Linked DNA regions of Homo sapiens. The protein of the gene in region 1 purifies or fractionates together with the protein of each later gene. This does not show direct contact. Each region holds a gene or a part of one and is shown on either strand. Other genes may lie near its edges.

Evidence for each region.
Region 2: the proteins of HPCAL4 (region 1) and POTEI purify together in Homo sapiens (affinity purification with mass spectrometry; one large-scale study listed by BioGRID and IntAct). This does not show direct contact.

Annotation. Positions count from the first base shown.
Region 1 is NC_000001.11:39,677,297-39,682,515, reverse strand, and holds the end of HPCAL4 (hippocalcin-like protein 4), read left to right. Parts: 3' UTR 1-3,868; downstream 3,869-5,219. UniProt on the Homo sapiens protein: May be involved in the calcium-dependent regulation of rhodopsin phosphorylation.
Region 2 is NC_000002.12:130,488,823-130,492,579, reverse strand, and holds part of POTEI (POTE ankyrin domain family member I), read left to right. Parts: intron 1-1,839; coding exon 1,840-1,910; intron 1,911-3,300; coding exon 3,301-3,345; intron 3,346-3,757.

The DNA.
Region 1 (5,219 bases):
CCCTGGCCAGAAGGGGCATGGCCACCTCCCAACCTGATGACCTCTCTGGCTGGCCTCCCAGGAGGAGGGACACTCCAGCCCCCCTCTCTGGCCCACCCAGTCCTCTGCCCAAGCCCTTCCTCCCCTCCATCAAGATCTTTGAGGGACCACCTCACCCTGCAAAAGAGACAGGTCCTCCAGTACCCTGTCTTCTAGCCCCACCTCCCACTTGGCCAGAACCAATGTCCATTGGGCATAGGGGAGTTGGCTTTTGCCCCAGGAGGTGAGGTTAAGGAGTTGGGGGCCTGGGGTTCTGGTTAGGAATTCTCTTGATCCTGGGATTATGCTTTATAGGATGTGGTCCCACAGGCCTGTCACAGGGCCAAATTGGGTCTGTCCATTCCTGAGGCTCCAGATCCCATAAAGGGGGTCTCTTCCCCATCCCTTCTACTCTACCTGGCCCTTCCAGCCCCAGCCTTTGGAGCGTTCATTCAGTCCTTTCTTCAGCTAATGATTACTGAGCACCTGTTTGGTGCTAAGGATATGGTCATTTACAAGACACATCTTGTGCCCTCTGGAAGCTCATAGGGTTGTGAGGCAAACTTCCAGCCGTCAGGGTCTCAGCTAAGCAGAAGGTGCTGGAAGGCTGGTTAGTCTGGGAGGAGCTATTTCATCTTCCAGCTCAGCTCCACACAAAGCTGCAGAAGGACGAAATGAAAAGCATTTGGAAGTTTAGGAGCCACGTGAGTGAAAGTTTTAAGAAAAATGAAATTTATGTCATACTTATTTTTTTAGTACCCTTTAAAGGAGCTACAGTCATTTTATTATTTCAGGAGGTTAAAATATACTCTATATTACTTGGTTTCTTATAAAATGATTAAATGAATAGAGAAAATATTAATTTTCAAGGGGAAAAAACCTGAGAAGAAAGGGAGAAAAGACCATGAAATTTACCAGATAACACTTTTTAAGACTAAGTCCTGAGCTGCCACTCTCAGCAGTTTTTGCTGCTTCAGCTCTTCCTTTTTATTACCTTTTTCAATTCAACAAGCAACTTTCTGCTACATACTTACTCCGGTTGGGTGCTGACTTCAGGGACAGGAAAAAGCAAGGTTTGCAAAGAGTGAAACTAGTGTATATTCCGTATCTTGGTAGTTCGTTTCTGGATTGGGTTTAGTTTCAGAACTGGACTTGTTCCTTCACTGCCACAGAATCAGAAAGAGCTAGAAGAAAAGGCTCACCTGGCCACTGTTTAGGCACCCAGACATAATTTATGGACGAAATGCCTAAAAATGTGCCAGGCATGCTCTGTTTGAGAGGCTTTTTCTAACCCCAAATCTTAGATCTGCCAGGTAGTTCAACATCTTCCAAGTGTGCTGGTTCTGCTTTCCAATGCCTGCTTCCCAATTTTGGATCCATGAGCTATACAGCTGCATGCTTTGACTGCCGGAAAAATTAATCTTGCTTCTTCATCAGGTCTTTCTCCTGTACTTGTGATCAGAAATTACCTTTGACGTGCAGTGACAGTTGATTTCCTCTTGAACTGCCGGTGAAAACAGTCTAGTACACAGGTGCTGTCAGCCCAGGGTGGGAGCAGGAAATGATTGCTGAGCCCGGGGCAGGGGAATTGCATCTGCAGGAAAGAGATGCAGCATGCTCCTCACTCCTGAGTGCCCACCTGTCCTGCTTCTCTGCAGGTGAAAACTCTGGGGGATGCTGATCAATAGAGCTTGGTCCCAAGCTCTACTGGGCCCTTGGAGGTAGCAAGGCCACTGGGTTGCTATCCTCTTGCTGGGGATAGCAACCACTGGTTTGCAACCACTGGGTTGCTATCCTTTTGCTATCCTCTTGCTCATGACCAGCCATATGGTGAGGCTGGGGAGTTCACATCCTCAGGCAGGAACTAGCAGTTGTTTATCCAGCAATGCCTCAAGGATGTTGCATTGCTCCCAGGAACTGGCTATTAGGTATGTCTTGTGCGGTCAGTCAGCATCACAGACACATAGATGCTCACCAGCCTGGCTTAGCTGGGACCTAAATCTTCTGGTGAAAAGCTTTTCACTAAGTGAGGTTCCTTCCCTGCAAATGCTGAATCTAGCCTAATTCGCAACCACACAGAATTTCATGGCTTTCAAAGGCTTGCCATGTGCCCCATCTCATTCTATACTCACATCCCATGGAGGTGAGGATTTTCACTTCTTTTCTCTAGACTTGGAAGCTGAGATTCAGAGAGGAAGCATCCCTTGTGCAAGATCACATAGTCAGGAGGTGACACAGGGCTAAGACTTGAACCAAGGCTCTAAGAGGATTTCTTCTTTTCAGAGTCTCTTCCCTGTCCATTTCTGTGACTAAGCTGTGCAGAGGTTGACAGCAGGGCAAGTTACATTGATATTCATCCTTTATAGGCTTCCTGCTAAAAAGCTTCTGAGATTGTGGTCTTCCAAAAAAAATAGGAGCTTGGTTGAAGTCCCCACATTTTCAAGCACTCAGTGTTCTGCCTCTGGCAGCTGTGCTAACAGCTCAGTGCTGTCCTGGGAGTCCTCTGACTCAGAACCCTCGAAGCATCCTGCATTGTCTTTACCCACCATCATCTTCACTAAGAGAAACATGCCTACCCATGAAGGCGTGTTTGATTACTCCAGGCTTCTGGACACACATACCCATGGGTGATTTTTGCTCCTCAGGCCCAATATTCTCAGACAGCCCAGCAGTGTGAACACACAATGCCAGGCCAGGAACTGGGACCACCATCTTGCTGATGGAAGGAACAACAGGTGGCCCAGGACATGCTCCTGCATACTCCTGGGTGTCCCAGGGACTGTGTGCTCAGGAGCACTGTGGTAGAGCACTGGCCCTGCCTTGAGAAGAGACACAGGTCTCCCGTCCCTGCACCAGCTGAGAGAGACTTGCCGCAAAGCACAAGGCTGGCAGAGATTTATGTATGACTTGCACAGACACAAAAATATACAGACAATCAAAACATTGATATATTCAAACTCTCCTTTAAATTCCAATCTTATTGCAACAACTCTGTGAATTGCAAGGTCCCAGAATCTGCCTTCTCACATACTCTACCCTCATTCATCCTTTTGGGCTAATTGATGAGCATCTTATTTCTTATCTCTAAAAATTATCAGCAAAGGCTACTTCAGATGGCCACTTTAGTCCTTTCAGCTGTAGTCAGGATTATTTAACTTACCTGTATATCAAAAGTGAAGAAAAAGTTAGTTCATAAGTAAAGGCACTAAATCCTTTCCTGACAATGGCAGAGTCTCTAGAGGTAGAAATTTGCCTTGCTGCAGAGAGAGAAGGAATGGCGTGGGATGGGGGAAAGAAAAGAAAGAGAAGAAGCTGGGGTCTCCAGGCAGGGTAGTAAGCTGACACTAAATATTTTTTACACAAAAATGTATTGAAGCAACAAATATTTCCTGAAGATCCACCCTGGGTGAGGCTTTGAGCTGACTTTAGAGATCACTGTGGGGTCAAGAATGTCTTACATGTTTTATTCATCATTCTTGAAAAAAGAAATAATTCAAACCTTGGAATTAAAAAGTCAGAAAAATATGGGATTTTCTTTCTGGAATTTTCGAGGTTTTCTTTTTACCTTTGCCAGAGTGTGGGGGCAGGACTGGGCCTGCCAGGGTGTATAGCCCTTCCTGCTTGGTGGAGGCCAGTCAGGCCCAGGGCCTTCTAAGCAGCAGTAGAAAGGAGGCTTGGGGAAGTGGGGGGTCTGGGTAGCAGGGGAAGGAGGCCAGTTCCAGTGTAGCCCCCTATCCCCTCCAGATGTGCTGCTTCTGGCTGTGCACTCAGTGACTGCCCTCACTGCTCAACCCTGTGCTGTGTGGTGTGTTTCTTTCCCCACTGACAGTGAATAAAAGGTGCAACTGTGCTGAGGGCTCCTGCTCTTCCCTACACTGGGACAGGATTGGGGTGGGGAGAAAGGGACAGAAGAGGCCTGGGGAGGCTCACTCAGTGAAGGGCCAAGGTCCTTGTTCTAGCAAGGACTCTGGGAACATGGCATGAGACTCACTTGAGCTAGTTCAAAGAAATGGGGGAGCAGATTATAAGGGACTCTGAAGATGGAAAATCAAGAATGACTGAACCTCAGGCCAAGCGCAGAGGCTCACACCTGTAATCCCAGTACTTTGGGAGGCCAAGGGGCAGATCACAAGGTCGAGATCGAGACCATCCTGGCCAACATACTAATAATACAAAAATTAGCTGGGCATGGTGGTGCACGCCTATAGTCCCAGCTATTCGGGAGGCTGAGGCAGGAAAATTGCTTGAACCCAGGAGGCTGAGGTTGCAGTGAGCAGCGGAGGTTGCAGTGAGCCGAGATCGCACCACTGCACTCCAGCCTGGTGACAGAGCAAGACTCCATCTCAAAAAAAATAAAAAAATAAAAATAAAAATAAAATAAAAACTGGCTGAACCTCAAGAGAACTGGAACTGGCAACTGGGCCTCTTCCTTACCATCTCTGGGTCTTGCAGGCTCTTGTTCCCTGGGCAGTATTTGCATCCATGCTCTTTTCCTGGGCTTCTCTTCAGACTTCTTTGGTTTTGTTGCACACAGTGGCTGAATCTCCAACTCGGTATCAAGACTCACCAGTGACTGACAACTCCCCTCTGTGCCTCTTAGTTTCAATTCACAAGCAAAAGGATCTGATTGGTTTGGCTTAGCTTTTGGCGGGATCCCTTAGGTCAGGTGTCCTCCCTTGGCCCAACCATCTGTAGCCTGACTGGACACTGATATGTGGGACCTGTGAGCAATTCCCTCAGAAGGAAGCTAATGGCAGCAGACGTTGGGACTTAGTTTCCCCCTCTGCCCAGTGAAAGGCCTCTTAAGAGCCCAAATGAGAGGACAGTGGCCAGCGGAAAGAAAGGCCAAGAGCCAGGGTTACAATTCGTCCATATGGCGCCCTTTGTATGACTTAGGAAAAGGCACCCCTCTGAGTGGAAGCAGCCCCATAAGTACGCAGCTGGGCAGTGGATAGCGCCTTTGGGCTAATTAGGAAAATATCTCCCTTCCTCCAGGTGAATACAGCCCTGTCATATTAGGGTGCACAGCTTCACAAGAGGAGCACAGGCTGCATTTCAGCCTGCCTCTCCTGCTGGTCACGGGTCATTGCATAGTGCGTAACCTGTTCCACCTTGACCTGAAATATGGTCAAGGGTTGGGGTGGGAGTTGGTGGTGAAGTGTTCCTCTCAGAATGTCCCCTGACAGTCCAAGAAGCACTGT
Region 2 (3,757 bases), on another chromosome or scaffold:
TGCAGATAGGATCAGGGACCTCTCTTGAACATTAATGTCCAGGCATCTTAAAATTACACATAAGGCTTTCATAATCTGACTTCTGCCCCACTCTCCATCTTTAGGCCTTTTCCCTGTGTGCCCTTTCTCTGGCATTACTGAGCTGCTGGCAATGCCCTACTCACTCATCCTTCTATTGTAGGCAAATATTTTCACTCTTTCAGGCCTCGCTCCCGCTCTTGCTGCTGTGTGGCATGCCGTCACCCTTTCCTGCCCTCTACCCCTTTTAATCTGGCTAGTCTCAATATTTAAGTCTCTGCTTGGGCATGTTTTCTAGAAAAGCCATCCCTGACATGCTTTATTTTAATTGTTTTTAAACCCTAATGCCTAGCATGTATTTAGCAGGACTCAATAAGAAATTTCTGAGTAAAATGTGAGTAAGATGATGTGCAAGACTGTCCTCTGCAGTCTTGGAGCAGACGGGACAGACATGTGGAGGAATAATGTAGAGTTCAGGTGGTAAAGATGCAGTAGAAAAATCAGTGAAGTACTAAGGCAGCCTCAAGGAAGGAGGTACCTGTTTATCTGGGGAAAGACATGCAGAATCAAGGAAGACGTTCTCATAGCATTGTTTTAAAAGATAAAAATAAGGATAAGTGTGGTGGCTCACACCTCTAATCCCAGCATTTTGGGAGGCTGGAGCAGGCAGATCACAAGGTCAAAAGATCAGGACCATCATGGCCAATGGTGAAACCCCGTCTCTACTAAAAACACGAAAATTAGCAGGGCATGATGGTGCATGCCTGTAATCCCAGCTTCTCCGGAGACTGAGACAGGAGAATCGCTTGAACCAGGGAGTGTCAGAGGTTGCAGTGAGCTGAGATTGCGCCACTGCACTCCAGCCTGGTGACAGAGCAAGACCCTGGCTCAAAAAAAAAAAAAGAAAGAAAAATGAAAATAAATATGTCTGAATCGTGGAGGGAAACATTTTAGATATTGGGAAGAGATTGTACACTAATAAAGGTGTCAGTAGTAATTTTTGAAATCATTTGTAAGGTACTATTGTTGCAGAAAACAGGAGGCAGGAGAGACCAAGTGGGTGAAACAGGAGGATTTCATTTAGGTTCGCACCAGCTCAGCGGATTTGCATCCGAAAGCTGAGCCCTGAACAAAGACAGGGCTTGGCTTATGTAGGCAAGCTTACAGAAGCAGAACAAAGGCAGTTAATCATATAGTGACAGTTTTGCAACCTCAGCGTAGCTTATGACCTTGCAGCTGCATTGAAGGACAACAGGAACTTGCAAATAATATGCATTTGTAAAAACAGCTCTGAGTGAATGCTGAGGGGAAGGGGAGACAGTAAAGGATTTTGTTTTCTTAACCTTGCTGTGGGATGTCTGGAGCCCATACCTGTGGGCTCTGGCTTCTCAGGCAGGGTCACCATGACCTTTCCTGGGCCCTGCTTGTTACTATCCTTAGAGTCAGACTAGCTAAGTGCGGGAAAACTTGTTTCTCTTTAAAACTAAATTTCCTTTTCTTTACATTTACTGCTTCACTATTAGGAAGTGGAGAACAACATACTGTGTTACCTTATATGTTTCTACTGTATTTTAAAGTTGTGTTTCTGGTGGTTTTGTTCATTTATGTTGGGTGGATGAATTTGTGAGTGAATGACATCAGGTGTCTCCCCAAGTGGTTTGTTGAAGTTTGGGAGAATTATTTCCTAAATAACTATTTCATGAAAAACTAAACACTCAATTTATGAAATAAAATGTTGTCTTAAATCTATTTTTATAAAGGCAATAGTTTTTAACTGTTCTAAGTGGTTCATTTTAACTGAATATATGGATTTCTCAACAGAACAAGACTTAAAGCTGACATCAGAGGAAGAGTCACAAAGGTTCAAAGGCAGTGAAAATAGCCAGCCAGAGGCATGGGAAATTTTAAATTTAAATTTTTGATTTAATGTTGTTTTCTTTGCTTTAATAATATTAGATAGTCCAAATGAAATTACCTTTCAGACTAGGTTTTGAGAATCAATAGATTTTTTAAAGAATTTTTTAATAGATTGTTAAAATTTATTTTAATAAATTCAGTAATCTCATTAACAGAAGAATGGATTCTAATTTAACATTTGATATTTAACTTAAAAAACATAACCACTATAAAATTTAAAATACTCTTATTTTATAATATTTTTATTTAAAATATTCTCATCTGCCTTTTTGATTAGCTTATAGCTAATCTTTCCTTTTGGAATAGAGGCAAAAACAAATTTCAGAACTTTGTTCTTTTATTTTTACAACACCCGAACATGATGAAGAAGGTACATCAATTATTGGATTATGTTATTAAGCAATAGAATTATGAACAATGTAACTCTGATGGTCCCTGAGCTGGATTCATGGTTAAGGAGTAATCATGGCCAGTGATTGAAAATCTGCAGTTTTATATTGTCAGTCACTGATACCAAGGTTAAAAATATATTCTGCCTTATGGTCTCTCATTGACCTCAGCGTTTCTGTTCAGGGAGGGAACCAGGTCATAAAAGCAACACAGCTGCCTATTACAAGAATCATATCTTGCAGAATGGAACCTTTGGTGTTAGTGCACAAACACAATAACATTCTAATTTATTTCAGTTGCAGAAAATTAGTACATATTATTAAAAAAATCTTTATCCACTGTAATTAGTACACATTAGAATATATTAGAACTGGACTTAAGCAGATAATCTGGATACATAACACTATCATATGACAGTATATAATCTCAATTAAAATTTGAGAAATTGCATCTCTTTCTGTTTGGTGTTGATTTCGGCTCCTAATAATTTAAATGGTGCCTACAATCCAGTTAGGAATCTTTTAGAAAAGCACTTCAGTGCACTGTAGGGGCTCACTAGTTAGGGTTTCATGAGGTAAACTCTTTTCAAGTGAGGAAGATTTTGGAACACTACAAATCATCTGCTGATTCATTTTTGGTAGATTTAACACATAACAAGTTTAGTCCAAACAAATGGTGACCAAGTTAAGTTTGCTGGTTCACGTTTTTTTTCTTCGTTGGGCTAAGGTGAATTATTTTTCACATGTTAGTCAGAAGCCAGTAATGTGGCAGTAGCTAAACATAGATTAAAAAGTTAATTCTTAATTTTAATTATTATTTATTTAACAGTTAAATTTTAATTTTAATTATTTTCTAATTTTTCATCGTCCATACTTCATTAGTTAAGAATAAAATTTTTTTAAAACATGCGCTCCAAAAGAGGAGACATCACAGAAACACAACAAGCAAATTAACCTTCTGTTTTTGCCTCTGCAGAAAATGTCTCAAGAACCAGAAATAAATAAGGATGGTGATAGAGAGGTATACCTTCATATTCAAATGTTTCTGTTGAATTAGATTTTTACATTATGTTGTTTAACAAAATGTAGTAAGTGTAGGCATACATGATCCTATCATGTAAGTAGCATAAATCATGAGTGAAAAAGTTAATATTTAACTCAGAAAGAATTCTGTACTTTGAGTTTTCAAGAGATACAAAGCCTAGAGATATTCTTTGATTATTATGGAACAATCCTGAATGGTGCCATAAAATGCTAGGTAATGCCACTTTAGGAGCTTTGGACCAATCATTTTATCTTTCTTGGTTTTAGTCTGATTATCAATAGATAATGTGGCTAAAGAAGATAGCTTCTTATTCTGTGTATCTTCCAGCTAGAAAATTGTATGGCTATTCAATGTGAAATTTGGGGAGCATCTCATTTTCTGGAATTCC